4 linked regions of the Homo sapiens genome follow. The protein of the gene in region 1 interacts with the protein of each later gene in a pairwise test. Each region holds a gene or a part of one and is shown in the gene's direction. Other genes may lie near its edges.

Evidence for each region.
Region 2: the proteins of TRIM62 (region 1) and FAIM interact in binary tests that used the Homo sapiens proteins (3 or more experiments, as listed by UniProt).
Region 3: the proteins of TRIM62 (region 1) and UTP25 interact in binary tests that used the Homo sapiens proteins (3 or more experiments, as listed by UniProt).
Region 4: the proteins of TRIM62 (region 1) and EPN2 interact in binary tests that used the Homo sapiens proteins (3 or more experiments, as listed by UniProt).

The regions. Positions count from the first base shown.
Region 1 is NC_000001.11:33,144,381-33,151,590, reverse strand, and holds the end of TRIM62 (E3 ubiquitin-protein ligase TRIM62), read left to right. Parts: intron 1-3,863; coding exon 3,864-4,414; 3' UTR 4,415-6,192; downstream 6,193-7,210. UniProt on the Homo sapiens protein: E3 ubiquitin ligase that plays a role in antifungal immunity by mediating 'Lys-27'-linked ubiquitination of CARD9 downstream of C-type lectin receptors; leading to CARD9 activation, followed by activation of NF-kappa-B and MAP kinase p38 pathways.
Region 2 is NC_000003.12:138,617,930-138,625,994, forward strand, and holds part of FAIM (fas apoptotic inhibitory molecule 1), read left to right. Parts: intron 1-1,781; coding exon of another isoform or gene 1,782-1,797; coding exon 1,798-1,841; intron 1,842-3,477; coding exon 3,478-3,610; intron 3,611-4,258; coding exon 4,259-4,487; intron 4,488-8,065. UniProt on the Homo sapiens protein: Plays a role as an inducible effector molecule that mediates Fas resistance produced by surface Ig engagement in B cells.
Region 3 is NC_000001.11:209,822,946-209,831,653, forward strand, and holds the start of UTP25 (U3 small nucleolar RNA-associated protein 25 homolog), read left to right. Parts: upstream 1-5,026; 5' UTR 5,027-5,118; coding exon 5,119-5,225; intron 5,226-7,162; coding exon 7,163-7,202; intron 7,203-7,857; coding exon 7,858-8,098; intron 8,099-8,708. UniProt on the Homo sapiens protein: Component of the ribosomal small subunit processome for the biogenesis of ribosomes, functions in pre-ribosomal RNA (pre-rRNA) processing. Essential for embryonic development in part through the regulation of p53 pathway.
Region 4 is NC_000017.11:19,282,013-19,290,077, forward strand, and holds part of EPN2 (epsin-2), read left to right. Parts: 5' UTR 1-65; intron 66-937; 5' UTR 938-1,107; coding exon 1,108-1,702; intron 1,703-3,607; coding exon 3,608-3,778; intron 3,779-8,065. UniProt on the Homo sapiens protein: Plays a role in the formation of clathrin-coated invaginations and endocytosis.

The DNA.
Region 1 (7,210 bases):
GCCTGTCACCTCCTGGGGATGAGGGACAGATGGAGGAACTGACTTCTCAGAGGGGGAAGGGGTGTTGCCATGCCCCTTCTAGGTCCCTTTCTGGTCTGAAGGTTGTTACTCCTGTTAGCCCTAGCCTCGGGGAGGGAGCCCCAGGAGCCAAGACCCTGTGTTAATGATTCGTGCAAGGCCTTGGAGGTGGCTTCAGCCAGGGTGCCACACCCTGCCCCAGCCTCACCCCTTGGGGTATAGAAGTCTCCTAAGAGTCAGGCCACACCCCCGCCTAAGAGAGTGGCAGGCCCTGCCCCTAGGCCGGCCCAGTGAGTGGCAGGCCCTGTACCCATCCTGTCCCCTGGGCTTCAAGCAGCACAGGTCCGCTCGCCAGGGCTGGCATTCACTGGGTCAGGATTTCCTCCAATCTGCAGGCTTATCTTTGTCTACTGGTCTCAGACCCACGGAGAGCCCCCTTGTCTCCCTCCTAGGGTGCCCTCCCACTCATCAGTGGCACCACAAGTGGCTCACATTGTCCTACATAAGCTACAAGTCTGAAGCTGAGCCCTTATACCTGCTTGAGGGTACCCCCCGCCCCGCACCAGTCCTTCTGCCCTGAGCCTCGGTTGCTGCCTGTTGCTGGTCTCAAATCACCCAGGCGCCTTAGATATCATGCCTAGGTTCCCCCAGCACTCTGAACTGCTGCTGTTCATGCCTGGGCACTGTGCATCGCTCTTCTGCCCCTCCACTGTCACACCTGAGTGTGATCCACATCCCACTGTCATAGGGGTGGCCCACCTATGTCTGATTAGGTTCCTCTTCTCAATCTAGCTCTTCCCCCTACCACACACTCCTCCTACAGCTCCCTCCCACTCCCACCTCCCGACCCCACTGTGGGAATTGCCCACATTCCACCAGGCAGGGGCCCCCTGGTTCTGACAAGCTGCCTGTGGCCAGTCAGACCACAGGGTGAAACATCCAGCCACCAACTCAGTGGCCGTCCTCTCTTGGTTCCCCGTCTTCTATGTCCCTGGACAGAGGATTGTGTTTCCATTGACCCCTCTATTCACAAGGCTAATTACTTCCATACAGCCCTCTAAGTCCAAAGGACAGAAACAAAGAGGGTAAAATGCAAAACTAAACTTACTCCTGGCAAAGATCATGGAAGGAACTTGATATAGGTCACTGGTCCAGTGGGTATATGAACAGAGGCACAGTTCAGGGACTGGCTGTAGCTCCCTGTTGGGGACAGTCCCCATCATTGAGGCATCTTATTTCTGCACATCAGTGCAGCCAACAGAGGCAACTGAAGTAGGGAGAATGCTCCAGCCAAGCATAACCATGTCCCCACTTCGCCAGTAAAGGAAAGAGCCAGAGAGCTGGATGTCCAAGACCCCAAGGAACAGAGGCAATTCCTTCTTCCCACTTTTCCTCATCTCTGTCTTGCTGTTGCCTGGAAATGGTCATTCAGGCTAAGGAAAGCCAATCCCAGTTTCCTCCTTCTCCTCTGGCCAGTTATCAGCTCCCTCAGGGAGCAGAGAGTAAACAGAGGTCTTAACAAGGGTTCATGAAATTTTTAGTCAGACCTGCTAAGCCGGTGTGGCCAGCCCAGAGCCAGGTGATGCAGCCCATGCCACCTGCCCAACACAAACATGGCCAGTTTAATTTGGTGAGTCTTTCCGGAAATGTGCCACAAGCCAGGCCCTGGGCTGGGCTCTGGACACACAAGGGAGAGCCCCATTAGACAGTACACGGTCCTTGCCCTCTTGGTGCAAATGGGGAAATAGGGCAAAATGTGATCACAGAAGATAATACCCCACGCCAGTATCAGGGCACAAATAAAGCTAAAGAATTTCAGGCCAGGTGCAGTGGCTCACACCTATAATCCCAGCACTGTGAGAGGCTGAGGCAGCAGGATCACTTGAGGCCAGGAGTTCGAGACCAGCCTGGCCAACATTGCGAAACCTCATCTCTATGAAAAATTTAAAAATTAGCTGCGCATAGTGATGCATGCCTATAGTCTCAGCTACTCAAGAGGCTGAAGCAGGAGGATCACTTAAGCCTAGGAGTTGGAGGCTCCAATGAGCTATGATGACACTACTGCACTCCAGCCTGGGTGGCAGAGTGAGACCCTGTCTGTATTTTTTTTTTTTAAAAGAATCCAGCACAGTGGCTCATGCCTGTAATCCCAGAACTTTGGGAGGCCGAGGTGGGCAGATCACTTGAGGCCAGGAGTTCAAGACCAGCCTGGCCAACATGACGAAACCCTGTCTCTACTAAAAATACAAAAAATTAGCCAGGCGTGGTGGCGCGTGCCTATAATCCCAACTACTCGAGAGGCTGAGGCATGAGAATCACTTGAACCTGGGAGGTGGAGGTTGCAGTGGGCCAAGATCATGCCACTGCATTCCCGCCTGGGGGATAAAGCAAGACTCTGTCTCCAATAAATAAATAAGAAAAAGAAGAGGCAAAAGGAATTTCAGAGGACAGAACGAGCACATCTGCTGGGTGACCAGGAAGGCTTCCCAAAGGGTGGGCCTTTTGAATTGAGCCTCTGGGGGTGGTTGCAACAAGCAGAGAGGAGGAGGTGGAGGGAACCGTGTAAGCAGAGGCTTTGGACCTAAGTGGGGTAGGGGGCAGAAGTGAGAGGTTGGCTGGGAGAAAGGACTGGCGCTAGATTGCAGACGACCTTGGTTAGTCCTGGCTCTGCCAATATTTGCAGGATGACCTAAGTTTGTCATGTCTCCCCTCTGGGTCTCAGTTTCCTCATCTGTCAAATGGAAGAGTTGGCCTAGAATTCATGGTTTTCAATCTTTTCAGACCCATTGTCTACTTTTCATAACAAATCATGTGTAATATCTCAAAGATAATATAACCTTTTTATAATTTCAAGTGTAACCTTTTCACAATTTCAAGTGTTGTGTGTGTATATGTACATAGATACATACTCTGACTATTAATATGAAGGAAAATAGAAGGAAATTATTAATAATAAAATATTTTGTATGTCAACATGTAGATGCTCACCCACAATCACACTAGAAAACCTAACAAAGCAGCCAGGTCCTCTCGTCATAGGTAAAACACCATCCTGCCTCAAATGCCTATACAGGTAGGTTGTCTCAGTCAGTGGTGTTGCCCTTAGGGATGTATTTTCCAACAAAGCAAACAGTTCTTAGGGAAGTTCCAAACAAAACAAATGCAGCCTTCCCTTCATTTACACAGTGGTTGCATTCTGAAATATTCAGTATATATTAAAACTGCAAAAAAAATTTCATGTTTATACATGAAATGGAGTTAGGTTATAGTTTCTTATCCTTATAAAAAAGATTTTTCATCCACATGAATGTCTGCTGGGACACGTGAAAATCACTGGGAGTCGGGGAAGGTGTGGGGCAGAACTTCCCTTTGCAGAACTGTCCTGTCCATTTCGTGGTCTTTAGCATCCCTGGATCCCAGCTGTTGTTAAGACAACCTGAACACACTCACCAATTTCCCCATTCCCCCTAGGGGGCAGTAGCAACTGGATCATCTGGAAGCTCCCTTCCAGCTCTAAAATTCCCCAATTCTAGGCCTCATTCTGGTTAATTCAACAAACATTTGCCAGTGCCCACTATGTGCTCCGCCCTGGGCATCAGGCAGTGAACAAGCAGCTGTAGCCCCTGCTCCCCTGCAGACAATATCTGGAAGGACCTTAACCACCACCCTTCCATTCTACAGAGGAGGAAGATGAGGCCCAGAGAGGGCAGACTTGTATTCAAGGTCACACAGCAGGTCAGAGGCCTCCTGCGTACCAACCAGAACTCTGCCCTCAGGAAGGCACTGCATGGTGGGTCCACAGCCTTCTCCCCACTCATCTTCTCTCCCTCCTCCAACCCCCACAGTGCCAGCCGCCCTAACCCTGGACCCGGGCACAGCCCACCAGCGCCTGATCCTGTCGGACGACTGCACCATTGTGGCTTACGGCAACTTGCACCCACAGCCACTGCAGGACTCGCCAAAGCGCTTCGATGTGGAGGTGTCGGTGCTGGGTTCTGAAGCCTTCAGTAGTGGCGTCCACTACTGGGAGGTGGTGGTGGCGGAGAAGACCCAGTGGGTGATCGGGCTGGCACACGAAGCCGCAAGCCGCAAGGGCAGCATCCAGATCCAGCCCAGCCGCGGCTTCTACTGCATCGTGATGCACGATGGCAACCAGTACAGCGCCTGCACGGAGCCCTGGACGCGGCTTAACGTCCGGGACAAGCTTGACAAGGTGGGTGTCTTCCTGGACTATGACCAAGGCTTGCTCATCTTCTACAATGCTGATGACATGTCCTGGCTCTACACCTTCCGCGAGAAGTTCCCTGGCAAGCTCTGCTCTTACTTCAGCCCTGGCCAGAGCCACGCCAATGGCAAGAACGTTCAGCCGCTGCGGATCAACACCGTCCGCATCTAGTCCAGGCAGAAGGAGACCACAACCTCCTGGGACCACTGCCACCTGCAAGAGCCCTGCCCAGGAGATAGAAGACCTGGACTCCAGCCCACCGTGGCCACTGGAGACCTCAGGCCAGTTGTTTACCCTCCAGCCTCCAGTCTGTAAAATGGAGGTTGCATTCCCTACTTCCTAAACTCTCTTCCAGCATCGATGTTCTGTAGCTCTGACCTTGATAGGGATACAGCTTTGATCCAAGGATGTGACATGGCTTCTCCTCAGGGCAACCCCTGCCCAACCCTCATCCCCATCTTCTCAGGGGCAGGGGACTACCTTCCAGTGTCTCCCTCCAGCCCAGCCCTGACCTCAGGAAGTGTCAGAGCATGGCCAGTAGTTGGCAGCCCGAAAGACACACAGCACCCTCTTATGTCCCATGGCCTAAGACTTACCCCTGACCAAGCTAGTGATGGGCCATTTACCCTTGACCCCAGTCCACAGTGGTCACAGGTAGTACCTGGTCCTAGGGTTGCCTGAGAGCCAACCTCTCCTGCCACCCCCACACCAAGAACTATATGGTTCCTACTTCTCCCACTGATCTGCTGGTCAGTGATGATGCTGTGGCCTGTGGAAGGCACCTGGTAGTTGAGTCCACACATTATAGTCATGTGCCACCACCTTCCTGCCCACAGGCCGAGGGACAGGGTGAGGGTATACCCAAAGCTGATGCAGAGCCCATTAGCCTAAAAGCAACTGCAGGACAAGCCTCCCTGGATGATCGAGGTCCCCAGTAGCTCTGAACAAGAGTCCAGCCAACCCTCTTCAGCCAGGCCTCTGTGACCTGCTAGGGTGCAGGAGGCTTCCAGAAGCAGTTGTTGTAATTAGGACCCAAGCACTGGGAGGGGCTGTTGGCTGGACCCCTTGTCAGACTTGGCATCTATCTCAGTTAGGATCCTGCTGCAGAAAACAAGAGCCACTTGTAGCTGGTTTAATTAGACAAGGATTTACTACCTGGCCCCTGGTGGCTTGCAAAATTGTTGGAAGAGCTGGAGAAGCAGACTCTGCTGAATTTCCAGGAACTCCCAGCGCCAGATTCATCATGTCTGTTGTGACCAGGAAAGCTGCCCCCATCTGCAGGAAGCCACTATGCCAGAAAGCTGCTGACTGCAGAACTAGGCTCCCTCTGCCACGGTCCGTGCCAGCCAATAGATGTCCTGAGGCCTGCCCCTCTCCCACTTCACTCAGTTCCCAAATCTAAATTTTTACAAGAGATTCTGTTTGGGGGAACTTAAGTCAGATCCAGAACCTTGGCTGCAAGGGAGTCTGGGAAATGTCATTTCCCTAGAAGGAAGTTAGGGTGGGTGGAGCAAGCCCCACCTGCGTTTTTCTGCCACAGCATCCAATCGTGAAGAACTCGGGAGAGGGTGGAGTCCACATCTAGGGTTGTCCTGCCCCTTGGCTCTATCCCTGCCCAGAGGTGGGAACTGGAGGAGTGGGCTGCAAGACTGAGCCTAAATGTCTCCCCGGCCTTGACTTTTCTTTCTAGTCCTGGGGCCTAGATTCTGCACTTGGGGTCTCTGACACAACACACCATCCCAAAGTAGCCGGAAGAGCTAAACACAGGGGGTTCTTAAAATGGCTGCCCCCGCCACCCGGGCCTCCCTTGGGCAAAAGGAATTGTCAGCCCTACCCCAACCCTTCAACTACCAGAATCTGGGCCACCCCAGCAGTATTTTTATTTAAAATGTTGCCCATTTTATGAGTTATGATCAATTTGTATTAAATTAAAGTTACAGATGTCAGTAGCCAGTTCCATTCATTTTGACAAACACACAGGCCCACCCAGCTCTGTCCCAGGCAGTGCACACACATGAGCATAGCTAATCCACAAAGCAGCCCGGCTGGGTAAATGGTATTATGCTCATTTTACAGAGGAGGAAAATTGAGGTTCAGAGAGAAGCCAAGACTTACCTGGGGTCCCATATCCCATGCTGGCAAGTGCCACACCACAAACCTGTCCAAAAACTTACCAGCCAGGGAAGGCTGTCAGTCTTTACCTGGAGGAGAGGTGGTGGTAGTCTTGGGAGCAGGCAGCAGGCAGCTCATGGGGCAGTGGCAAGAGCCTGGTCTCGGGAACCACACAGACCTCAGCTCAAATCCAGGCTCCATCACTGTGTGACTTTAGAAAAATGACCACCCTCTCTGGGACTCAGTTTTCCCACATGGAAGATGAGGATACCAATTTCACATAATTTATTGGTAAGCTGTAAAGTGCAGTGCACTTAAGGAGGCCCTACCCTATCCCCCCAGCTGCCTCCCAGAGTCAGTGCCTGGAGCTGTATGGGTTTCCTGAACCTCTGGGCTGGCTCTGACCCAAGAAGTCTGTCTTTCTCCTTATGGGCTGTGACGGGTATGGAACCACCTAGACCAGGACCATCCTGAGGTCCATCCCACCTCTGACTGATGAGGAAGCATCCTGGCTGGGAGTTAGGACAGGCTCTGCATGTGGACACACAGGCTGTGCACACTTAAGTGGAAAAGACTGTCGACTAAAGAAGAAATATCAAGCTTTTAAAGAATTAAAGTTCACTTTACTTAGAAGTCTTACTGAGTACTATAGACAGGCCTAGAGCCCAGCAGCGGCCCTTTAGAGAGGTTCTATCAGTCGGGCCCAGGACAGTATTTTAGCCCACTGCTTATATACAGGTGGTGGAGGTTTAGTACACGCAAAATCACATCACACTTGCTCAGAAGTAACATTAAAGCCACCGGGCGCAGTGGCTCATGCCTGTAATCCCAACACTTTGGGAGGCCAAGGCAGGC
Region 2 (8,065 bases), on another chromosome or scaffold:
TAGTATATATAGTGTATATAGTAACTATATATTATATATAGTATATATATAGATACCTGTTTTGAGACAGGGTCTCACTCTGTCATCCAGGCTGGAGTGCGGTGGCATGATCACTGCAGCCACTCACTGCAGCTTCTAACTCCTAGGCTCAAGCGATCCTCCCACCTTAGCCTCCCCCAGTAGCTGGGACTACAGGTGCATGCCACCATGCCTGGCTGGCTTATTATATTGCTATGTATTCTTTTTGTTTTTATTGTTGTAGGATACCCTCTGGTTTCATAGGGGATAATCCTTAAGAGTAGAAAAGTTCACAAATTTGTGTGGTGCTAATTTTATAAAAGAGAGATTTATTTTAGGTACAAATATTTATCTAGTTTTTATTCTAAAATCCTTGGCTTTTCTGGCCCGTTGGATTGCTTTTATGAGTGCTAATTTCTTCTTTAATATCTTTTTGGCTGGGTATGTGGTGGCTCATGCCTGTAATCCCAGCACTTTGGGAGGCCGAGGCAGGTGGATCACTTGAGACCAGGAGTTCGAGACCAGCCTGACCAACATGGCAAAACCCCATCTCTACTAAAAATACAAAAAATTAGCCGGATGTGGTGGCATGCAGTTGTAGTCCCAGCTACTCAAGAGGCTGAGACATGAGAATTGCCTGAACCCAGGAGGCAGAAGTTGCAGTGAGCCAAGATCATGCCACTGCACTCCAGCTTGGGGGACAGAGTGAGGCTTTGTCTCAAAAACAAACAAAAAACTTTTTAATAATTTGTGACTTCTGGCTGTTTCCAGACAGAAAGGGTTAGCAGTCTCCCATTTTTAACCAGGAGAGAGCATTCTTGAGCATCTGTAGGAAACAGGCACTAATTAAGGAAAGGGCTAAACTAGGATAGATCTTGGAAGCAAAAAATAGTTGAATTTAGGATACTTTGGCAGGAGTGAAACTGTTAATCCCAAATCTTCAAATGTGAGGGTTTCCTATGCATGTGAATTTATGTGCACTTCTGATTTTAGTACAGCTTAATTAACACTGCAGCCCAGTTACTGTTTAGTTCATTGCATAGTACAGTACTGGGCTCTAGTTCTGGGTTGGATCCTGCCAGTTACATGAGCAAGGCACATAACTTTTGTGGATTCATCATTGGCACTAGTAAATTAAATGGGCTTAAGTAAGGGGATAAATTAAGTTCACTCTTTGAGAGCAGACCAGCATATCCCTGTCTGCTTCTTGCAAACTCATTAGTTCTTTGAAGTTATCTAAACAGATTTTGAAAGTTATGTTCCACCATAGTGTAGCCTTCTAAAATAAAGATTACATTTTAAATTAGTTGCCACTTTAACATTGATGCTCCCAGAAGATACATTGTGTTTATCCTGGAGTTTGATGTATTCCCTGACTCATAGCCTTGGGGCTTCTTACGCTTCAACTTGAAAAGCATAGGACCCAGAGGATCTCTTAGGTCTCTTGCAGCTCTGATATGCTATAACACTTGCAACAAAGGAGAGTTTGTTCTTTAGTTTTGATAAAGTATACCTTTAAGAAATTATAAATCCATAACAGGGAAAAATATGACTGACTGATTTGCATGATGTAACATCTTTCTCTGAGAATTAAAGATTGCAATTCTATTTTATGTAGAAGCTGTTTCATCTGAAACTCCATGTAATTTAATAAATGGATTGCAAAATTAGAAAAACCCTTTGTAGATGTCATCATTGTTGCTTTCAATCTTTCTTTGCTGCAATTCTGCTTTTTTCTTTCCTGGCTGCTAATTGGATTAAAGACTGTTTTTGCCAACCATGGCATCTGGAGATGACAGTCCTATCTTTGAAGATGATGAAAGGTAAATGTCTTATATTGCAGTAAACTAGCCTTTGACATTTTCAAGATTGTTATCATTCAAAAGAGTGATTTATCCAAGATACTCTGTTAAGAATACATTTTGTAAAATTGCAGAATACATGGTTCTGCTTTTGTGTGATTTAAAGCAGGAGTAGTAAATACCTGGCGTGGAGGTAGCCACTAGAAACATGGCATCCATTTCAGTAGAGCCTTGATGTGAGGTCTTCTCATTTCTGTCAGCACAGAGTTCTTGGCAACCACTTCAAAATGATATAAAATCCATTTACCATCTTCAGTTTAGAGCGTACAGAGGAGATTAGGGCGAACAAAGAGGAAGATGTAGTTAAGAGAACAGGCTTTGGAGCCAGAATCCTAGGTTTAAATCCTACCTCTGCCACTTAATGTCATTGTGACCTTAGGTAAACCCTTAGCCTCTCTAAGCCTCATCTGTAAAATAAGGATACTAATAGTAGCCATCTCATGGTGATTCTATGAGTTAATATATTTAAAGCTCTTAGAACAATGACTGATACATAGTTATCACTTAATAGCTGTTAGCTATGATTATTATTACTGTAATAAATGATACTTCTGTCAAAGCTAAAAAGATACACCAATATCAAAATATTAATTAGATATTATGTATTATGTCATTCACATAGGATATATTAACATCAAAAATATATGTTGAAGTATATGCCAGAAATCTCTGACAAACCAAAATCCTTTATTTATTTCTTATTTTTGAGACAGTCTCACTCTTTCACCCGGGCTGGAACGTGGTGGTGCAATCATGGCTCACTGCAGCCTCAACCTCCTGGGCTAAGATGGCTCTCTTACCTCAGCATCCCAAGTAGCTGGGACTCCAGGCATGCGCCATCACGTGTGACTAATATGTTTGTAGAGACAGGGTTTCACCATGTTGTCCAGGCTGGTCTGGAACTCCTGGGCTCAAGTAATCTGCCCACCTCAGTCTCCCAAAGTGCTAGGATTACAGGCATGAGCCCCTGCACCCAGCCCAAAGTCCTTTATTTTTTTAAAATAAGATTTCCTGTAATAATGCCAAGAATATTTTTCATAACATTTAAAAATTATTTTTATCTTTATTATAGGGCATTTCTTCCATGACTTTTTTCTGTCTTAGTATAATAAATTAGAACCTTTTTGTTAAAACAAATCCCTAGTGCGAGTTTAAGTATGGGAGGTTTGGAGAGTTCTTGTTTTAGAGTGATTAGACCTGAAAAAGAGAAATAAAATTAATTACCATGGTTTTTACATGGGAGCTGGTGGGAGAAGAATAAAGACTTTTTACTGACCTTTCCATGCACTATACTGTAGCCTAACCTAGAATACTGACCAGGATAAACTGATGCATTCTTAATCCTATTAATATTAAGGTGGCTTTTTTTTAGAAGTAATCGGACTATGTACCCATATATAGTAGTTGTATCTTAAAGGAAGAGTGAATAAGAGGGAGAAAATAGTTACATGTACTGTGAGTAGAATTTCTTAGGTACTGTCACTTTAATATTTTGACATTTTAGAGGTTTTAATCTAATATTTTCATCTTGGAAGGATTAATTGGTTATTTAATTAGTATTTTGGCCTACTATAATTGCTTTATTTTATTCCTTTAGCCCTCCTTACAGCCTAGAAAAAATGACAGATCTCGTAGCTGTTTGGGATGTTGCTTTAAGTGACGGAGTCCACAAGATCGAATTTGAACATGGGACTACATCAGGCAAACGAGTAGTATATGTAGATGGAAAGGTAGGAAGAAAATATGTTACTTTGTAAAATATGATATATAGAGAAACTTGATTTTGTTAAAGTAGCATCTTCATATGTGAATTCAGGGCTTTTTTTTCTTGTAGTCATGTTTTTGATCTGTATCATTTTGCTGTGTAAAGCAAACATAGTTATAGAATTCATGGAATATAGCGTGTAATATTTAAACTTAAAATGCTTTTATTTTCTAAAACCTTGGCATCATAAATTAATAAAATTACATCTTTTTTTTTTCTTTTTTTTGAGACGGAGTCTCGCTGTGTCACCCAGGCTGGAGTGCAGTGGCGCAGTCTCAGCTCACCACAACCTCCACCTTCTGTGTTTAAGCTATTCTCCTGCCTCAGCCTCTCAAGTAGCTGGGATTACAGGCACCTGCCATTACGCCCTGCTGATTTTTTGTATTTTTAGTAGAGACGGGGTTTCACTGTTGGCCAGGCTGGTCTCAAACTCCTGACCTCATGATCCGCCCGCCTCAGCCTCCCAAAGCGCTGGGATTACAGGCATGAGCCACCACTCCCGGCAATGAAATTATATCTAAATGGCATTGCCTTTGTTCACTTTACGTTATTTCTAAAATTAGATATCAATTTTTCTTCCATTTGTTTCATATTTTTCTGTTTTATTATGTAGGAAGAGATAAGAAAAGAGTGGATGTTCAAATTAGTGGGCAAAGAAACATTCTATGTTGGAGCTGCAAAGACAAAAGCGACCATAAATATAGACGCTATCAGTGGTTTTGCTTATGAATATACTCTGGAAATTAATGGGAAAAGTCTCAAGAAGTATATGGAGGACAGATCAAAAACCACCAATACTTGGGTATTACACATGGATGGTGAGAACTTTAGAATTGTTTTGGGTAAGTTAGTGCTGTTTCCGCAGAACTTTTTTTTTTTTTTTATAATGTCTGTTTAATTCCTGTAACTGTATTCAGACCTTCTATGGAGGTTTGAAAAGAAGAGGGAGTGTAAGTGCAGGTGTATTTCATTTGTTTAGAAACATTAAAAAAATTTTTTGTTTCCTATCTGCTTGGGATTGTCTAGCAGGTGTGTATATTGTCCAGCAGGTGTATTTCTAATGTGTCCTGAGTAAATGAAGCATTCATTTAATCCACCATTTTATATATAAGATATCTTAAGCCAGGTTTTATAGTGATGGATTTGAGGATTATAAATTTAGGTTTTAAAAAAATGTAATATTGCCAGGCGCAGTGACTCATGCTTGTAATCCCAGCACTTTGGTAGGCTGAGGCGGGTGGATCACCTGAGGTCAGGAGTTTGAGACCAGCCTGGCCAACATGGTGAAACCCCGTCCCTACTAAAAATACAAAAATTAGCAGGACATAGTGGCACATGCCTGTAATCCCAGCTACTCGGGAGGCTGAGGCAGGGGAAATCACTTGAATCCAGGAGGCGGAGATTGCAATGAGCCGAGATCGCACCACTGCATTCCAGTCTCAAAAAAAGCAAGACTCCATCTCAAAAAAAAAAAAAAAAGTAATATTGATGTAGATTTTGGTATTATTTGGTATTTCTCTTTATAAATATATCTTAAAGGCAGTTGGAAATTTAGGATTTATCAGTAAGAAAGCAATATTTTCCTAGATAACAATAGGCTTAGGACTGCATCAGATCAAAATTATCAAAGTCTAGGACTTTTTGAAGAGTTTTTTTTGTTTGTTTTTCTAGGCTTTTCTGTTTGGGTTTCTCTTTTCTTATGGGAAGCAGATATATATCTTTTCTTTGCCCATATTCCTATGTCTTTTAGCAGTTTTACTCGTGTTCTCTATTGCTTGGAATTCTTTTCATTCTTTTATGTTTTTGAGACAGAGTCTCACTTTGTCGCCCAGGCTGGAATGCAGTGGTGTGCATGAACATGGCTCACTGCAGCCTTGTCCTCCTGGGCTCAAGTGATCCTCCAGCCTCAGCCTCCCGAGTAGCTGGGACCACAGGTCCATGTCACCATGCCAGGCTAACTTTAAAAAAATTTTTTGTAGAGACAGGGTCTTGCCATGTTGGCCAGGCTAATCTAGAGCTCCTGGGCTCAAGTGATCCTCCTGCCTCAGCCTCCAAAAGTGCTGGGATTACAGGTGTGAGCAGCTGTGCCCACCCTTCTTTTCATTCTTAACAACAATATTCTTGGAAGTCTGTTGCCCTCCTGTTCTAAGTATCCAAGTCTGCTGCTTTGTGGCCACCCTAGGCTTTCTTTCATGGAACCCTTTTGTTCTTCCAGTTATTGAACCCCACAACTCCTGCTTTCATCTTTGTTTACTGGAATATATTCCTTAGGTAATCTCCTGATAAAGGGTGTCTAAGAAATAAACATTACTTTGATCCTCATGCTAAGTTGATAGTTTTGTTCAGTACAGAGTTTTAATTTCAAACTCACTTTCTCTCAGAATTTTTGAAACCCTTATTCCAGTAGCTTCTATTCTCCATTGTTTTAAATGAAAAGTTTTGTGCCAATCTGAATCTCATTTTTTTCTTTCCAGAAGGTTTTGGGAGCTCATCTTATCCCTTATATTTCCAAATTTCATAGTGATATGTTTAGGAATATAGTTACTCAACCTGCAATAAAGTTTTAGAACCACTGGATCTCATTAATAATGGAAATTTTAGTTTTTAAAAGGATTATGATTAGTGTCAACACACTTAAACATATGGGACTTTAACAGATGATGAAACCAGGCCTTTAAATTAATTTTAGGTACTTAATCAGCTGCTTTGCCAACTTGTAATACAATTGATATTAACTTTTCCTAGGTGAAATGGAAGAGACTGCCTGAGCTATGCCTAGCATACAGTTAGTTCTCTTTTAAATGTCCAGGGGCCTGCTTATCTACTTGTGAATTATCTCGGGTCTTTAAAAAATATATTTTTCTGCTTTTACTCCTTGTCTGCCTTTACTCTTCTTTATCCATTTGCAATCCCTCATGAGCCTGGAAATGAGACAGAGTTCAGCCCCAACTTGTCCCTTTTGCTGTTTGGAAGGGATAAGGGACCAGAGTTGTTTACTGAGGTAAAGGCAAAATTGCATATGTTATTGATATTGCTTGCACTTCTGCTTCCAAGATCCATCAAACTTTGGACTATGCTGACTACAGCCTACATTTTACAGATTAGTTATGAAGAATGCAGGCTCCAGGATCAGAGCTGTGTGATGGGCAAATTACTTAACCTCTGAACCTTGGTTTCCTCATCTGTAAAATGGGGATAATGTAACTCCCTCACAGAGTTGTGATATGAGTGAAGTTTAATTGATTTAGTACATGTAAAGTACTTAACAGTGTTTCTCACATTGTGAATTCTTTAAAAATATTATTTGTCAGCCAGGTGCAGTGGCTCACACCTGTAATCCCAGCACTTTGGGAGGCTGAAGTGGGAGGATCGCTTGAGCCCAGGAGTTCAAGACCAGCCTGGGCAACATAGGGAGACCTCATCTCTTCAAAATATTTAAAAATTAGCTAAGTGTAGTGGCACATGCCTGTAGTCCCAACTACTTGGGAGGCTGAGGCGAGAGGATCACTTGAGCCTAGGGGTTCAAGGTTGCAGTGAGCTAAATTGCACCACTGCATTCCAGCATGGATGACAGAGTGAGACCCTGCCTCAAAATTTTAATAATTTGGCTGGGCATGGTAGCTCACACCTGTAATCCCAGCACTGTGGGAGGCCAAGGCAGGTGGATCACTTGAGGTCAGGAGTTCGAGACCAGCCTGACCAACATGGTGAAACCCCATCTCTACTAAAAATACAAAAATTAGCTGGGCGTGGTGGTGGGCACCTGTAATCCCAGCTACTCGGGAGGCTGAGGCAGGAGAATTGCTTGAGCCTGGGAGGCGGAGGTTGCAGTGAGCTGAGATTGCGCCACTGCACTCCAGCCTGGGTGACCAAGCAAGACTCTGTCTCAAAAAAAAAAAAAATTGATAATAATTTAAAAATATTATTTGTGGTGATTATTACTACTCATGGGCAAAGAATGGGCTTATCTAGAGTCTCCTGGTAAAATTCACTCTTGTATGTTATGTGGCAAGTTTCAAATAACAATATTATATGACTTGCTAAATTTTATATTGAGAAATTAGAGCAAGGCCACAAAAAAGCTTTGAATAACAAAACATTATGATTTACTAAGGTCATATTATGTGCCAGATACTATACTAGGCACTTTATATAATTATTTCTAACCCTTATAACAGCCTATGGGAAAGGTGGTATCATCTTCATTTGCCCCTGAGGAAATGGAAGCTCAGAGTGGTGGTGACTTGCCAAAGGGTACTGCTAGTAAAGAGTGATGCTGAGAGCTGACCTCAAAGATCATGTGCATTTTTTTTCACCACCTAAAAAATGTGAGGCATATAAGGGCAATGAAAACAGGGTTGGTTAGCATTCTCAGCTCTTGTAGTCTCCACACCACTGAATACCATGGGAGGAAAATAAA
Region 3 (8,708 bases), about 180 Mb from region 1:
ACTCAGCCCATCCTCTGTGCAGTTCCCCACAAACTTTTCCCTCTTCTCCACGGCAGAATGAGTTTCTTTATCCTCTGGGTTCCTTTAACCCTTTTGTACGTCTTTTAGCCCATGACAATGTCATTCTTTGTTAATTGCTTTGTCTCTCAACTAGACTCTGAGGTCTTCAAGGGAAAAGTCTGATGTTTGAGCTTTTTAAATCCTTCATGCCCAGTGTCATTCTTGGAACACAGTAACTGCTTAGAAAATGCTTGATAAAATGAATGAATGTATGAACAGCTGAGCCCTTGCCGCAACAGACGAAAAATAGTATGTAGTTATACCAACGTCCCACTAGAGGGAGCAATGCAAAACTTGATGCCCTCTAACAGCATTTAAGGCTTGTTCTCAACTAAAGTAATACGATAAAATATTTTCCATTTTAAGCTAAACCTAATGTAAATCAATCCCTGATACACCTGATGAAACATATTTATAAATGTTCACTATATTCCAGGTTCTGAGTTTCACAGTGGATACTTCTTATGGGTACAGATGAATGGAAAGGGCAGGGGACATATGTACTCATATTTTGTATTTTTATGTTATGTAGCGTGCATCACAAAGCTTTGCTCTTCGCAGACATAATCTCACTTCTAAAGTCTGCTCCACCTAGAAGCTTATTGCTCCACGTACAATAAATTCTGTGGAATCCGATGACTACACAGCTTCTTAATTTCCTATTGTCCTATATCCGTCATATCCTGTCTTGAACACACACACTTACTGTGGATGAGGTCAGGAAACACAACTCATACAGCCTCATATCTATAATTTCGATCAATTTTGAGTTCAATACTAGTGTTCAATGAATGTGTCTGGCTGACACATGCTCAGCCTGAGACCAGCATCCCCCCACCTGAGTAAATGTGTCCTTGCAGATTCCTTAGCATCCAGCATTGTTCAGTTCAGCATTCAGCACAGCGTATTGTAATTGTCTGTGTACTTACCTACACCCAGACAAGACTGTGAACGCCCTGAGGAGACTAGCATGATCTTATTCTTTCTCCTAGCTTTGGCTGCCAGCACCTAAGTGTTAGGTAAATATTTTTTTAAACAAGTAAGCTAATTCCATAATTTTATAAGGTAGTGAGAGAGTGATTTCTGCCAGCAGTCTCGGGAAGAGGCTGGATTGCTTTGGGTCTGTACACAGACATGCGTGTATACATGTTGTAGAAGAGCTGGTCTTGTATGTAGGAAACTGTCTACTTTAAGGCTACTAGGAAAGCACACACACACACACACACACACACACACAAAATCCTTCCCTAGAATCTTCCCAAATCAGAAGCTGAGGTGTCTGACTTTCACCATTAGAGAGTCATACCTTTGGATATACATGGCTTCCTCTCAACATATCTTGAAACTATGTGACCTTGTTATCAAAAAAAAAATAAATCTCAAACATCCCCAGCATCTGAGATGTATCCTCAAGCAGTGTTCCCCCTAGCTCTGTTGAGAATCTCAGATAGACCCTCTGCTTACTTTCTGTATTTTGCATTATAAAGTGACTGACTTGTGTCTTTAAATATTTATAGCTATATGTCAAGTAAGTACTTTCAAATTATATATATCATGATATTTACAATTAGAATATATCAATTTGTAGAACTCCATGAATTCATAATGATACTAAAAATAAAAACCAAAACTTAATTGGCCACCATTAAATCTAGTGATCAACTTCTTACCTTGAAAATTGGCAAATGAAGGGAAAGAATCAAGCATTTATTCTTTCCTATATAAACTGTACCACTGGGTAACCAAAATTTAATTAAGGTAGAAATTTGTCTTCACAACAAGAATTCAGCAACTAAGTAAAGAATAAATGACAGAATCAGAGTATCACTCCCTGAAATAGAATTATAATGTATTCATGAATTAATGAATTTAGACATTGAGCATCAATGTCTGGTAACATCACAGAAAGAAAGGCAACCAGACATCATATGCCTTCTGATGGAAGTACAAAATACCAAGTATAACAAAGTGTGATCAAACTTCTAGATCCAACAATCAATTCATAAGAAATATAGAGAAGAGCATAACATGTTAAACCAACAAAGTATTTTTAAAAGACAACATTTATGAGACAATCAAAAATGTGAACACTGGCAGTATATATGATTATATTAAACAGTTAACTTCAGTGTTTTTTAGGTTGGATAATGCCATTGAGGCTACATTAAAAAAACCCTTAACTTTTAGAAATGCACACTAAAATATTTACAGATGAAATAATATGATGTTTGGGATTTGCTTCAAAAATAATGCAGAGTAGGGACAGGGCAGTGGTTGGGCATATAAATGAGACAAGATGGCCTTGAGTTGACAGTTGCTGAAGCTGGGCAATAGGTATATGGGAGTTCATTCTCCCATTTTGTCTACTTTTGTATACACTTAAAATGTGCCATATAAAACATTTTTTTCTTTTAAATTATTAACTGATTCCGAAACATTCTGATATTCTTGTCCTAAGGGATAGCTATCCTTCTCCCACTCCTTGAGATCATTATCCTAGAGAATCTTCTGGAAATTGCAAATATCCCAAGGAAAGTAACTTGTTAATTCATTAACAGCTATCTGTAAACTAATACAGAGGGTTATTTCCTGGACTGCCTTTAACACTGAAAATATGGAGTTCCTGTGAGTAGAAGTAAAAGAAAACGTTGGGGGAGGGAAACGGAAGGGCAGAGGGAGGGAAAAAGAAGAACAAATTTTGTCTTCATTACAGTTTTCCTAAGGCCTTCATTTGTTGGCATATACATCATCGTTGTGCAGGTTTTACTAAGAGAACTTTCACGGGGGGGCGGGGCGGGGAGAAATGCTTACATTCTTGGCTCTTAGGTTAAATTTTCACAAAGGATCCCTTTTTATGTTGTCAAAGGATAATATAAATATTTTTAGGACAAAAAGGGCTTCTTTTTCCATGACCCAGTGAGCCAATGATGAGACTGCTTGGGTGGGGCTAGGGTAAATTTTTACCTGAACCTGAGAACCGTCTAGACCTGTACACAAGACCACAAGGGTGTGGAAACCGGGAGAGTAAGAGTCACCTCAAGTGCTTGAGAATATAGCTTTCATAGAAGATCTCTGGAAGAACACCAAGAAAGTGGCTGCCTCTGGGGAGGGAAACTGGGGCACTTGGGATATGTTGGGAGGGGGAAAAAGGATGGCTCTTTATTGCTATAGCCAAGTTATACTGTGGTCAGCACCTTAAAATATATGATGACATCTTGCAAACAGGCTTTTGTTGACCTAAGTGACTGTACCTTTTATCTTGAAATTACATAGAAGACAAATGGCTATTTATGGGTTCCTTGGCTGGCCCAGCTGCTGGGCACCACCCGCTCTGTTTGCATGTGTTCCTCATATTCTCCGGCCCTGTCCTCCCATCCCCACCCCAGCCTCTCCGAATCTAATTAGGAATAGTAGATGGTCACTAGAACTGACAAGAATCGCATTCTAATGGTTTTATTACAACTTCTATGGTGTGACACAGTATCAGGGAAAACCCAAATTTCCCACAGTAGCACTCCAATAGCAGAGCTATTATTTTGCTTCTCATTTCTCTCATTTTGGACGCTCCTGTTTTACCGTAAATATTCAAGTGAATTCTGCGGCTTATGATTTAAGCACTCTGTTTCTATAGAACATGGTAGCATAAGTTACTATTAGGAAAAGGATCTCACCATCTTTATCCTGTGGTCTCAAGCAGCCCTGCACACTTGCAAATCCCTAGAATACTGAGTCTACTTTTATATTTTTGCTTTTTCCTGTTTATTTAGGTGTTATTTAAATACATTAAAATTCACCCATTTTAACTGTACAGTTTAACTTTTCTTATGTATACAAGGTGTAACTACTAGCATGATCAAAATGTAAGATGGTTCCTTTACCTTCAAAAGCTTTTCCATCCCCTTTTGTCCGAGTTCAGTTATGAGACACTGGATTGGGTTTCACAGCCTTTTCTAGCATTGACTGGGGTGATTTCAGTAAAGTCACTTTACCTCTCTAGATGTGTTTCTGCTGTTGTTAAATGGGGAATGCTGGAACAGATTTGTTTGCGGGGACTCTTCCAATACTTTCAGAAAATGCGAGAATAGGGTGAGGGTGGGAATCTCAGACTTGTGGGCCCCATGATTGATATAACACACACAGGCGGCAGACCCTAATGGGTAAAAGCATGTGGTTGCATCAGTTAAGGTTTTTCTCTCTTCTCTTGCTAGCGTGTTATCTTTTCTTTTCTTTTCTTCTTTTTTTTTTTTTTCGAGATGGAGTCTAGCTTTTGTCGCCCAGGCTGGAGTAGGCTGGAGTGCAGTGGAGTGATCTCGGCTCATTGCAACCTCCACCTCCCGGGTTCCAGCGATTCTCCTGCCTCACCTCCTGAGTAGCTGGGATTACAGGCGCCCGCTACCACGCCCGGCTGATTTTTGTACTTTTAGTAGAGACGGGGTTTCACCATGTTTGGCCATGCTGGTCTCGAACTCCTGACCTCAGGTGATCCGCCCATCTCGGCCTCCCAAAGTGTTGAGATTACAGGCGTGAGCCACCGCGCCCGGCCGCTAGCGTGTTATCTTTTCTAAGCATCAGTTTCCTTATCTGCAACACCAGGCTTATTAACAAGACCTATCTGTACACTGTTGTGGTGATGAAGTGAGATGTTCAGGCACCCTTAAATGTTGGTTGATATTTTTATTGCAGTATACTGTAAAGTCACTGCATTCGACTATCTCCGCTACTACACATTTACGCAGACTGATTTCCATAACCAAAACACAAGCACAAAGCTCATGCCCCCGACTCACGCAACCCGGGAAGCCCAGCTGCCCACGTTCTAGGGCTCTGAGAACACTAGTGAACGAACTCCCGTGCTTTCAAAGAGCTGCGGTAGGGGGCAGAACCGGGAACCGGATGTTCTAAGCCTGTCGTACGAGCGCGACGTAAAGCGGATCTGCTTTATGGCACCTTGCTTTCGCCGTAAAGCGCAGTCAGCGAGCCCACGTGCTTGTGTTGACTGGACAACTTCCTGGTGGAAAACCGCGACTCTTGCAAGTGGGCAAACTTGACGTTTTCGCTATGGGCAAACGCGGGAGCCGGAGCCAGAGCCAGCTACTCAACACCCTAACTAAAAAGCAGAAGAAACATCTTCGAGATTTCGGCGAGGAGCATCCCTTCTATGACAGGTCTGAAGGGGCGTGGCAGGGCTCCCCAGTCGCCAGAGATGTATCCTCGAGTTTGGTCCTCTGGTCTCCCAGATAGTGCTGCTCCGGCCTTTTCCCACTATTCCCTGGCTCCCGCTGTGCTCGGCCGGGGAGATTCTGGCGCCATCCCGCCGGGAGATGGAGTGCTTCACGGGCCTTTTTGTTGAGCCTGTAATTTCCTGCTAAGAGGCACGCCCGTTGTGTGGGGGAGGATTTTTTTTTTTTTTTTAAGACGGTGTTTCGCTCTGTCGCCCAGGCTGGAGTGCAATGGCGCGATCTTGGCTCACTGCAACCTCTGTCTCCTCCCGGGTTCAAGCGATGCTCCTGCCTCAGCCTCCCGTGTAGCTGGGATTACAGGCGCCCGCCACCAAGCCCGGCTGATTTTTTGTATTTTTAGTAGAGATGGGGTTTCACCATGTTGGCCAGGCTGGTCTTGAACTCCTGACCTCAGGTGATCCACCCACCTCGGCCTCCCAAAGTGCTGGGATTACAGGCGTGAGCCACCGCGCCCAGCTATGGGGGCGGATTTTTGTGTGGTCAGAGATCTAGGAATTTTTTGTAGACACACATATATATATGTATATATATAATTTTTTTTTTTTAAGACAGAGTCTCGCTTTGTCGCCCAGGCTGGAGTGCAGTGGCGCGATCTCAGCTCACTGCAACCTCCGTCTCCCGGGCTTAAGCGATTCTCCTGCCTCAGCTTCCCGTGTAGCTGGGATTACAGGCGCCCGCCATCACACCCGATCAATTTTTTGTATTTTTAGTTGAGACGGGGTTTCACCATGTTAGCTAGGGTGGTCTCGAACTACTGACCTCGGGTGATCTGCCCGCCTTGGCCTCCCAAAGTGCTGGAATTACAGGCGTGAACCACCGCGCTTGGCCTGTTTTTATAATTATTTTTAACTTACATAAAATGATTGTACATATTTGTGGGATACAGTGTGATATTTTGATAACAATACATGTACCCAATGTGTAATGATCAAATCCGGGTAATTAGCATATTCATCATCTCAAACATCAATTCTTTGCGTTGGGAACATTGAAAATCCGCTCTTCTAGCCATTTGAAAATATACAATAAATTGTTAGTTATAGTCACATCATATGTTGTGTGTGTTTTTAAAGAATTTGTTGGGACATCATTGATCTTTGCAATTACGATAAGGAACTAAGTGTATTAGTAGTTGTGGTTTCTCTAGAAATGTCTAGGTGCAGTTATGATCTCAATGCTCATCCCACTACTTTGGGCTGCTTTGTCATCAGTTAGGGACATTCTTTTTTTCTTTTCTTTTCTTTTTTCTTTTTTTTGAGGCAGGGTCTCACTTCGTTGCCCAGGTTGGAATCCAGTGCTGCAATCCTGGCTCACTGCAGCCACCACCTCCTGGGCTCAAGCGGTCCTCCTGCCTCAGCCTTCCCAGTAGCCGAGACTACAGGTGCACAACACAACTCCGGGCTAATTTTTCTTATTTTTTTGTAGAGACAGGGTCTCCGTATGTTACCCAGGTTGGTCTCAAACTCCTGGGCTCAAGTGATTCTCCCACCTTGGCCTCCTAAAGTGCTGGGATTCCAGATATGAGCCACCGCTCCCAGCTTAGAGGGACATTCTAATTAAGAAATTTGCTAGAAAAACATGAACCCCGAAATCTTTTATTTAGCCAAGTTGTATCCTTCTTTTGGATGAGAGCCTTGTGTGACTCTAGGGTTTGTCATGTGACCTCCTTAAACTTTTCATTTGTCAGTTATTAACCATATTCTTGCCAGCCCTGCCCAAGTGCATGTGTAATTTTTGCATGACTATATCTAAAATGTATTTATAATGTTATATTCTGCCTTTTTCATTTAACATCTCATTTGACCTTTTCCTAATTTCTACATACTAGTAGTTAGAATGTAACATTGCCTGTTTCTTTTTAGGGTTTCCAGAAAGGAAGCAAAGCCACAGATTTGTCAACTGGTAATGCTTTCTACCTTCTTTTTAATAGTTGGTTTTGGGTTGTTCCCACTAAGATTATATCTAATAATAAAGCTTGATTACATTTCTATTCCTTTTGATTTCAGATGCAAGCTATTATTTTGGCAGTATCACTTAATTTTAAATGCAGATGTCTATAAAAATGCCATTGTGATATCTAATACAGAAGCCACAGTTTGAAATTGTCCCAGGAGACTAGCCTATTAGGCCCTGTTACAGAGGCTTATCAGAGGGCTCTTAGTGAATCCTAAGAGGGAATATCTTTTTTGGTTAGCATAAAGGAGTCACAAATACAGTGCAAAATGAACAAAGGGCCTATCATATTACAACAAACTAAAAAAAAAAAAAAAGAAACCTGTTTTCTTTTGTTGTTTTGTAATTATCCTGTTGTTCTATTAAACCTGTGGCCTAATGCCTGGGACATAAATTAAATCTCATAACCTGAAGTTTTATGTTTTAAAAGTGGGGCAGTAGCAGTTTGGAGCATATGAAGAGCTTCTAGAATCATAGCTAGATTAGCAATTTTAAGTAAATTTGAATTTGGGCTTCGTTGAATAGATGTTGGCTTGATGATAGTTTTAGGGTAACAATAAGAACAATATAGTTTTTGTTCTTAAAATTCTCCTTTTCCTTTTAGTCAGAGAGTTCAGATTCTTCAGATTCTGAAAGCGACTCAGAGAGTGAACCACAACAAGTTTCTGGCTACCACAGACTACTTGCTACATTAAAGAATGTTTCTGAGGAAGAAGAGGAAGATGAGGAGGAGGAAGAGGAAGAAGACAGTATTGTAGATGATGCAGAAATGAACGATGAAGATGGTGGTAGCGATGTCAGTGTGGAAGAAGAGATGGCTGCAGAGTCTACTGAAAGTCCAGAGAGTAAGTGTCTTTACTATAGGCTCATCATCTTTGCCAGAACTATAGACAGTTCATCTCATGAGCATGGTACCTTATATACTGTGTGAGTTGGATGAAAGGACATGAATCCAAAATAGGGATTTACCCTTGTTGGGTTTGATTGTATCTTTGAGAATCTGATGGAAACACAGAACCTTCTTAGCACAGCTAGGCAGAAATAACATTTTTGCTTGTAATTTCAGGGACTTCATCAGTACTAGTGAAAGACCTCCTAATACAGAGGAAGGAGAACACAGTTCTGTCTTTGTGACTGTCTGAATTTATTGAAGAGGTTACTGTTCTTCTCTTAGGGAGACCAAGTTTGATGGAAGATAGACATAAATATATATAAAAAATTTCAAACAGTAGATTTGCGATTGCATGGAACAGCTAGATGTAAGGTGTTGAAGAGAGGCAGAGTGGTTGAACACTGCCAGTGTAAATTAGGGAAGGCTTCAGGGACTCTGTGTCACTCAGACTTGAAGGTGACTTTTTTCTTTAACTTCAAAATCACCTTCATTGAGGTATCATTTACATACAGTAAAACGTATCCAATTTAAATATACAGTCTGACAGGTTTTGACAAAGGTAT
Region 4 (8,065 bases), on another chromosome or scaffold:
GATGAAGGTTACCAAACTTGTGGACAGGAGCCTCATATCAGAGACGTGGACCTCACTGTAGCCTGGTAAGTGAGTGTTATCTGGAGGAAGAGAGGGGATAGATGATGTGTTTGGTTGGAGCGAGTTAATAGATAGCCAGGGGTCTCAGTTTTCTTTGTGAAATGAGGGGCTGGGCTATAACCAGATTAGTTTTAAGGCTGTATTAGCTTGGGCCAGATGCTGGAGGCTTCTGAAAGCCAAGTGGAGGTCTTTATCCTTTTTCTAGAATTGCTGTTAGGAATCTTTATAAATTCTTGAACAGGGAAGGTCAGGCGAAAAGTGGTTGTCAAGGAGAATTTTCTGGACATTCGGAAACACAGTGGACCAAAGCAGTTTTGAAGGTATTGACAGGCATTTTTGAGTTAAGATAGACCTGAAATTAGTCTCTTTCTTGTCCTCATGTGTATTTTTTTTTATTTAAATAAACTTTAAAAAAATAGAGATGGGGGTATTGCTGTTTTGACCAGGCTGGCCTCAAGTAATCCTCCCATTTCAGCTTCGCAAAGTGCTGGGATTACAGGTGTGAGCCACCATATCTGGTCTCACATGTAATTTTAAATCTGCCAAGATCAGCTTCCCCCAGTGTTTCCGATTCTTCCACAGCTGGCTTTTGCCAGGCAGTGAAAAGACAACCCATAAAATAGCCATTCCAGTGGAAGTGTTTTGAAAATAGAGCAATAGTCATGATGTTTACTTCTTTTCTCCTAAAGGCTTAAACTTGAGTGTAAGTTTTATTCATTGTTGACTGGTGATATTGATTTTATCTTGGGTTCGTCCTAAGGAGGCTGGGTATGTCCACTCAGCTCCCCAGTTTTACCCAGTACCTGCTGCTGGACCACAGTCTCCCACCCTCACAGGGGGCTTACGTCGCAGTGGAATGGGTTTTCTCTTTCTCTAGGTCATGGCTTCCAGCTTTTCGAATCTGAGGCTCCAAAGGAGGAAATGACCATTCAGGGATCTTACTCCAGCTTGATTACGGAGACTGAACCTTCATAGGGTGCGCACTTACCAAGGACAGGAAGGTTTCTCTGTTTGAAGGGCTTTAAACTTATAACAAAGAAAATAAAAATGACGACTTCGTCTATCAGACGGCAGATGAAAAACATCGTGAACAATTACTCAGAGGCAGAAATCAAAGTCCGGGAAGCCACCTCCAATGACCCGTGGGGCCCGTCCAGTTCTCTGATGACCGAGATTGCCGACCTGACCTACAACGTGGTGGCCTTCTCGGAGATCATGAGCATGGTGTGGAAGCGGCTGAATGACCATGGCAAGAACTGGCGGCATGTGTACAAGGCGCTGACCCTGCTGGACTACCTCATCAAGACAGGCTCCGAACGTGTGGCCCAGCAGTGCCGGGAGAACATCTTCGCCATCCAGACCCTGAAGGACTTCCAGTACATTGACCGAGATGGCAAGGACCAGGGCATCAATGTGCGTGAGAAGTCAAAGCAACTGGTGGCTCTCCTCAAGGACGAGGAACGGTTGAAGGCTGAGAGGGCCCAGGCTCTCAAAACCAAAGAGCGCATGGCCCAGGTTGCCACTGGCATGGGCAGCAACCAGATCACCTTTGGGCGAGGCTCCAGCCAGCCCAACCTCTCCACCAGCCACTCGGAGCAGGAGTATGGCAAGGCCGGGGGCTCCCCGGCCTCCTACCATGGCTGTGAGTAATGGAAGTGCTTCTCACCCTTTGCCAGAGCAGCAGCAATGGGTGACAGGCAGGGTGGGTGTCTCTGGGCTTAGGGAGTGGTGGCCACTGCAGAGCTCGAACCTGTCCTCAGTACCCAGCTTTTGGTGGCCCAGGCAAATTGTCCTTGGTCTGGATTGAGTTTTGGTTATAAAGGGACTTTTAGTCCCTTGGCTGCTCTGGTTCAGGGATCTCTAACGCCCTTTGCTGCTCTGGGCCTCATTCTGTACATCTGGGCAGACGGTGGGCAGAGGCAGGTCTTTTCTGCTTCCTTGTCAGAATGGGTCTGGCAGCAAAGGAGTTGTCCTGCTGCACATACAATGGGGAGTTGACTCTGGTAGCCAGGAGGAAACAAATGCTCTTTCTTGATAATCTTGTTTCTTTAATCTCATATTAAGTGTTTTTCTGCTGACTGAGCTTCAGGTCTCTTGAATGGCTCAGTATTATTCTACTTCAGCAAAAAAACTTGTACAGGTTGCTAGTGTGAACAAGGCCTCCCTGCCAAACATGCAAATGAGAGTTGCTAGTGATCTGGTTGCATGGCTGGGTCTGCATTGAGTTCTGGTTTTGCATGTTGGATTAATTTGGGTCTTTGCCTTATGGTCAGAAGAGGTTTCAGGGAACAGAGTGGAGTTCAGGGCCTGATGGAAGCTGGTCTCTGTGAGTCACATTGGCATCCTGGCTGTTCATTGGAAGTGGTCCCCCAACAGGTGTTTCTCCATTTTCACAGTGCTATTCCAGCCACAGTGTGGACCCCACACTCAGAGAGACAGGTGGCCCTAGTGGCCTTTGGGGGACAGGGTGAGGATGGAGGTGGGGATTGTAGAAATTATATCTTCTGGCTGCTAAAACAAAAGTGCAGATCCCTAGTAACACTATGTCAGCATAGCAGAAAACTTCTTTTTAAAGGAAGTTGTCTGTAGTTTGACAGACCTCAGTCAACCCTTACTTAGTCAGTGTTCTGTTACCAGACCATTTACTAACATTTCCTGCTTTTGCAGGTTTCGATTTGACATTGTACCGCCACCACTAGCATTTTGAGAAATGTGTTAAATGAGAGATTTGCATATTAAAGTCAGATTTCCTGCTTCTAGGAATTCTGAATTATTACCGAGCTTGGAGCAGGTTAACATATTCTTGTCCCATATGTAGTTGTCATTTTTCTTCTTAGTTTGAACTGTTTTGCTTAAGCAAAGGTTGTGACCTTGGTTAAACCACTTGAAAACAATTTAACCTTAATCTCCAGAAGCCTCAATGCAGGGTTAAATTGCACCAAAACAAATGAAGATTGCCCTTTAAGAAGTGAAATTGTTTTATTTCTCTCAAGGATCCTCTTACCAACCCCCAGAGAGGCTCTCTTTGGATTGAGTTGGTCCCAACCTGCCTTGACTTCCTCTGTCCCTGTGACTGTGGCTGTGGCTTTGATGCAGGCCAAGGGGAGCTGCCATTCTCTTTATGTGCTTTTCATGGTCATTATTCTCAAGAAGCCAGAGGATGCTAAGCAAGGAGCTGAAACAGCTTCATGTTCCATGAACAATTTGTGGAACTTTGCAGATGCAGGGGTTGGAACAGTGGGGATGCAGGAGCCTGGTTTGATCCACCCCTCCTCCTCATACCGAGTCCAGGGCCTGTAGCCATAGGTCCTGCTGGGCTAAATGATACTGCTGCAGTTCCAGCTGTGATGTTTTTGGTTCCCTCAGACCTTACGCTTGAGCTGCATGTTCAGGGTCAGAATGTGGTCAGTGGGCTTTTCACAGCTTCCACCGCAGTGGGCTGCGGGGTTGACCCCGAGTGGCCTTGGCCCGTACCTCCTGCAGGGGCTGCTGCGCACCCTCTAATGGCGTGTCTCTCTGTGTGTGTGTGTGTGTCCCTGCCCCACAGCGCCTGAGGCCTCGCTGTGCCCCCAGCACCGCACAGGGGCCCCGCTGGGTCAGAGTGAGGAGCTGCAGCCACTGAGCCAGCGCCACCCCTTCCTGCCGCACCTGGGGCTGGCCTCCCGCCCAAATGGCGACTGGTCCCAGCCCTGCCTCACTTGTGACCGCGCAGCCCGAGGTGGGACGGCGGTTTGCTTTTTTCCTTACTAGAAATGCTGGGCAGCTTGCTGGGGGTGTGCTTGCCATGCCAGTACAGCCAACTCTCTCCCTGTCTCCTCTGGGCCTGGGGGTTTGGCCTCCAGCAGGCCCAGGAGCCCTTTCTTCCTCTCTCCTGGGAGCTTGTGGCCTGGTCGTGCTCCGCTTCCAGGATCACATGTCACTTGCTAGAAGTTCTGTCAAAGGTTTAGCAGGGGAGCTGTTCTTTGGGTAAGGCATGGGGTGATGGCCCATGCTCTCCCCATGCTCCCATTCCCTGACAAACTGGAGGGGGCTCTGCCACCTATCAGGCCCACCCATGGTGGTGGGTCAGACAACTTGGCTTGTTGGACCGGAAATGTGTGATTTAAACCTCACAACACCAGACAAATATAAGATCCTCAGTGATGGTCATTGGAAGCCATTATCCTTAATGCAGTAATGTATGCCTTGCCCTGAATAAAATGGGATTTTTTTTTTGCTTCCCAATTAACTGCTGTTCTTCCTGAAATCCCTGTTACCATGGAAAACAGAGAGTTAGCTGTACTGTCAATTCTAGGTCACGGTGTTTGAAGATACCTAATTCAATGGGTAACTAAAAATGGGGCTTCTCTTTCTACTAATTAATAATGTATCCTGATCAGAGCCTTACAACTGTAGCAGGTTAAACTGAAAACAGATTTTCACTGTTTCCTACAAGAAAATGCTCTCAGTCTACCATTGGTCCCAAGTGGGTTCTCTGCTACAGGGAAGAAAGGTGTCTGTTCTCTTCTACTCTTCTTACAAGAAGGGGCACGACAGAGAGCTTTTGTGCGACTTCCCTGATAAGGTGACCAGCCTTTATTCAGCCCTGGAAACAGTTACAGTTCATTCATGCCTCATTAATATTACAGCTTGTTTGACTTGGGTATTTGTGTAATAACTATATTTAACTCTAGGATATTTTCCTTCATGTCCCTGTTTTCCCCTAACAGTTTATACAGGATTTTGGCTTCTTCTAAACTGACATTAGAAAACGTAAGGAAGGCCAGCTCTGCACTGTAAAGAATGTAAATGATAAAAGCATTCGTTAAAGGGTCACCCAGAGGCATTGGAGTTACATGCCCATTTCACCCCCCCAGATAGTCAGAGGCTGCTGTTCTCAGCAGGTCCCGCGGAACTCTCCATGGAGTTCCCTTTTTGTTTTTCCCATGTTCTACCCATTTGGTAACTGACAAGGTCTGTTTTGAGCCTTGGTGGCCAATTTTGTGTTACCCTGGCCCTCTAGCTCTCCCGCTGGCAAACTGGCTTTCCTGGGACGTTTGCATGTTAAATACAGCCTGGCAGGCCTGCAGGCTGGCCATCTTCCCCCACTGCGGCTGTCTTTGGCCCTGCCTCTGCACCTTCGCCTGTGCCATTCCGTTCTCTCTGCTTGGATATCGCTCCCACCACCTGCCCCCTGTTCCCCCAACCTGGCAAGTTGCTTAAGGTATCCACCCCGTGTGGATTTATGTTGTCCTTCAGCCCTGATAGGAGTTGAAGATAAAAATGAGTATTTTTTTCTTTGAAGATTTCTCATGCCCCAGATGAGTTTTGAGCAAACAAGTGTTATATGGATTGCATTTCATCCTTTAACTGTTGGGTGTGGCATCCTCTCCACATCTCACTCCCTCCCCGTCAGAGGGTAGGGGGCTGTCGGAGTCCAGGGCAAAGATTCTGGCCATGTTTCTTCTCTGTTCTTTCTTGATGCTTCACAAAGGGTTGAGTATAAGGTAAGTGCTTAATCTATGCACACCAGTGGATTTGTTTGGAGCACACCTTCTTGGAAATCAGCAGTGGGAAGGTCAGAATGATGCCGGCCATTCAGAAAACTGTCAGGTGAGATGCAGGCTGTGATTCAGGAGAGATGTTTGTGAGGGGTGCATTTGGGACTGCAGACCCCACAGAGGCAGAGGAGGCAGACTGCTCAGAAGCCCTCTTCACATGAGAGCAGCCACAGCCGGGAAGGCCTCTTGTGTGACTGGCGATAATCATGAGGATGTCTGAGGAGAGCTTTCTTTCATGTGCCATATGTCATCTCATCCTCCCTGTGCCCCTCCCTCTCTCTCACCTCCCACATAGATCTGTAGATCTGACCTTGGAAGTCTCTTGAATTGTCCATCTTGTTCCATGGCCTCAATTCAGTGCCAGCCTTCTGACCAATTTCCTGCTGTCATTATCTCCCAGTCTCACCTACCCTCCATCTTCATAAAGGATGCCCTGGTCCTGAGTCTCAGCCCCTTTAGATGCCAGGCCCTGCAGGGCCATCCCAGAGCCTTTGACGTTGCAGACCTCAGTTGCTTCCACCAGCTGTGTCCCCTGCCCTCAGTCTGGGGGTCCTCCTGTTCCGGCGGAAGCATTCCAGACCTTCCCAGGCCTGCTGACGTCTGCCTGCAGGCACAGCTCTGGGCTTTCCTTTTGAAGCCTGGTCTACCTGCCCTCTGCTCTGTATTTATTGAGTTCCCATGGGGCACCAGGCACTGAGCACAGAACAGAGCCCCTTGCCCTCGTGGAGCTTATATGGTAATGGGAAAGAAAAACACAATATAAATTATTCAGCATGTTATGTAATGAGCGCTCTGGAAAACAGCAAAACAAAAACAGTCTTGCTTGAGTGTCTTTGGGGAGGTAAGAGAGGGTGGCTTGCAGTATGAATGGATCAAGGATTGAAGGAGTGTGAGGGTGAGCCTTGTGGAGGTTGGAAAGAGCCTTCCAGGCAGAAGGGCAGCTGTGCAAAGGCCCTGAGGTGGGAGTGTGCTCAGGGTGTTTGAGAAAAGGCAGCCAGTGAGGTGGCGATGAGTGACGGAGCATGGCCAGTATGTGGGGGTGGAGCGTGGCAGAGGTGGGCCTGGAGGAGGTGTGGGGCAGGGCCTCTCAACTCTGTCTGGTTGGGAGCATTCCTTGAATTCCTAGTCCATCCAGACGGGTCCTTTTGTGTCCATGTTTAGATGTTGTGCCGATGTCATTGCTAGGAGCTTTTGAAACACTTTCACTGTGCTTACCTTGCAGACCATGCACTCAGTGGCCCGGTGCTGGGCCTTCTGGGTTTATGTCAGAAATTTCTTTGACTTTCACTCACAGTGAGATGGGGGAAGATGAGGGTTAGGAGGATCCCTTGGGGTGTGTATGGGCAAGGTGGGAGCAGGGAGCCAGGTCAGGAGGCCACTGTCCCCATCCAGGTGGGAGATGGTGGGGGTCTGGACCTGGCAGGGCTGCAGAAATCTGGGCAGTAGCCAGGTTCTGGGTATGTTTTTTTTTTTTTTTTTTTTTTTTTTTTGAGACAGAATCTTGCACTGTCACCCAGGCTGGAGTGCAGTGGCACGATCTCCGCTTACTGCAAGCTCTGCCTCCCGGGTTCACGCCATTCTCCTGCCTCAGCCTCCCAAGTAGCTGGGACTACAGGCGCCCGCCACCACGCCCGGCTAATTTTTTGTATTTTTAGTAGAGATGAGGTTTCATCATGTTAGCCAGGATGGTCTTGATCTCCTGACCCCGTGATCCGCCCACCTTGGCCTCCCAAAGTGCTGGGATTACAGGTGTGAGCCACCGCACCTGGACGATTCTGGGTATGTTTTAAAGATGACCTGACAGACCTTGCTAGAGGACTGGGCAGAGTGAGAGGGGAGCTGAGGATGACTCTGAGGGCTGGGAGCAGAGCAGCTGGAGGCAGAGCTGCCATCATCTGAGATGAGGGCGGCTGTGGGTGCAGTAGGTTAGTGGAGGGGTTGAGTTCAGGACACATCGAAGTGTCTCCTAGACACGCAAGTGGAGGTGTCAAGAAGGTCTGAGAAGTCTGGAGTTGGGGGGAGAATTCTGGGCTGCAGGCACACTTTGGAAGTTGTCAGGGCATGGACAGTGCTTATAGCCGTCAGCTGTTCGGCCTCACCTGGCGCTCATGGTTTTTTTTTTTTTTTTTTTTGAGATGGAGTCTCACTCTGTTGGCCAGGCTAGAGTGTAGTGGGGTGATCTGGGCTCACTGCAACCTCCGCCTAGCTGGCTTCAAGCTATTCTTCCTCAGCCATCTGAGTAGCTGGGATTACAGGCACATGTCACCATGCCTGGCTAATTTTTGTATTTTTAGTAGAGATGAGGTTTCATCATGTTGGCCAGGTCTTGAACCCCTGACCTCAAGTGATCTGCCCAGCTCGGCCTCCCAAAGTGCTGGGATTACAGGCGTGAGCCACCATGCCTAGCCTCTGGCACTCATGTTTACTTGGTGGTCTTGTAATTTCAGACACACCAGCTGCCCTCC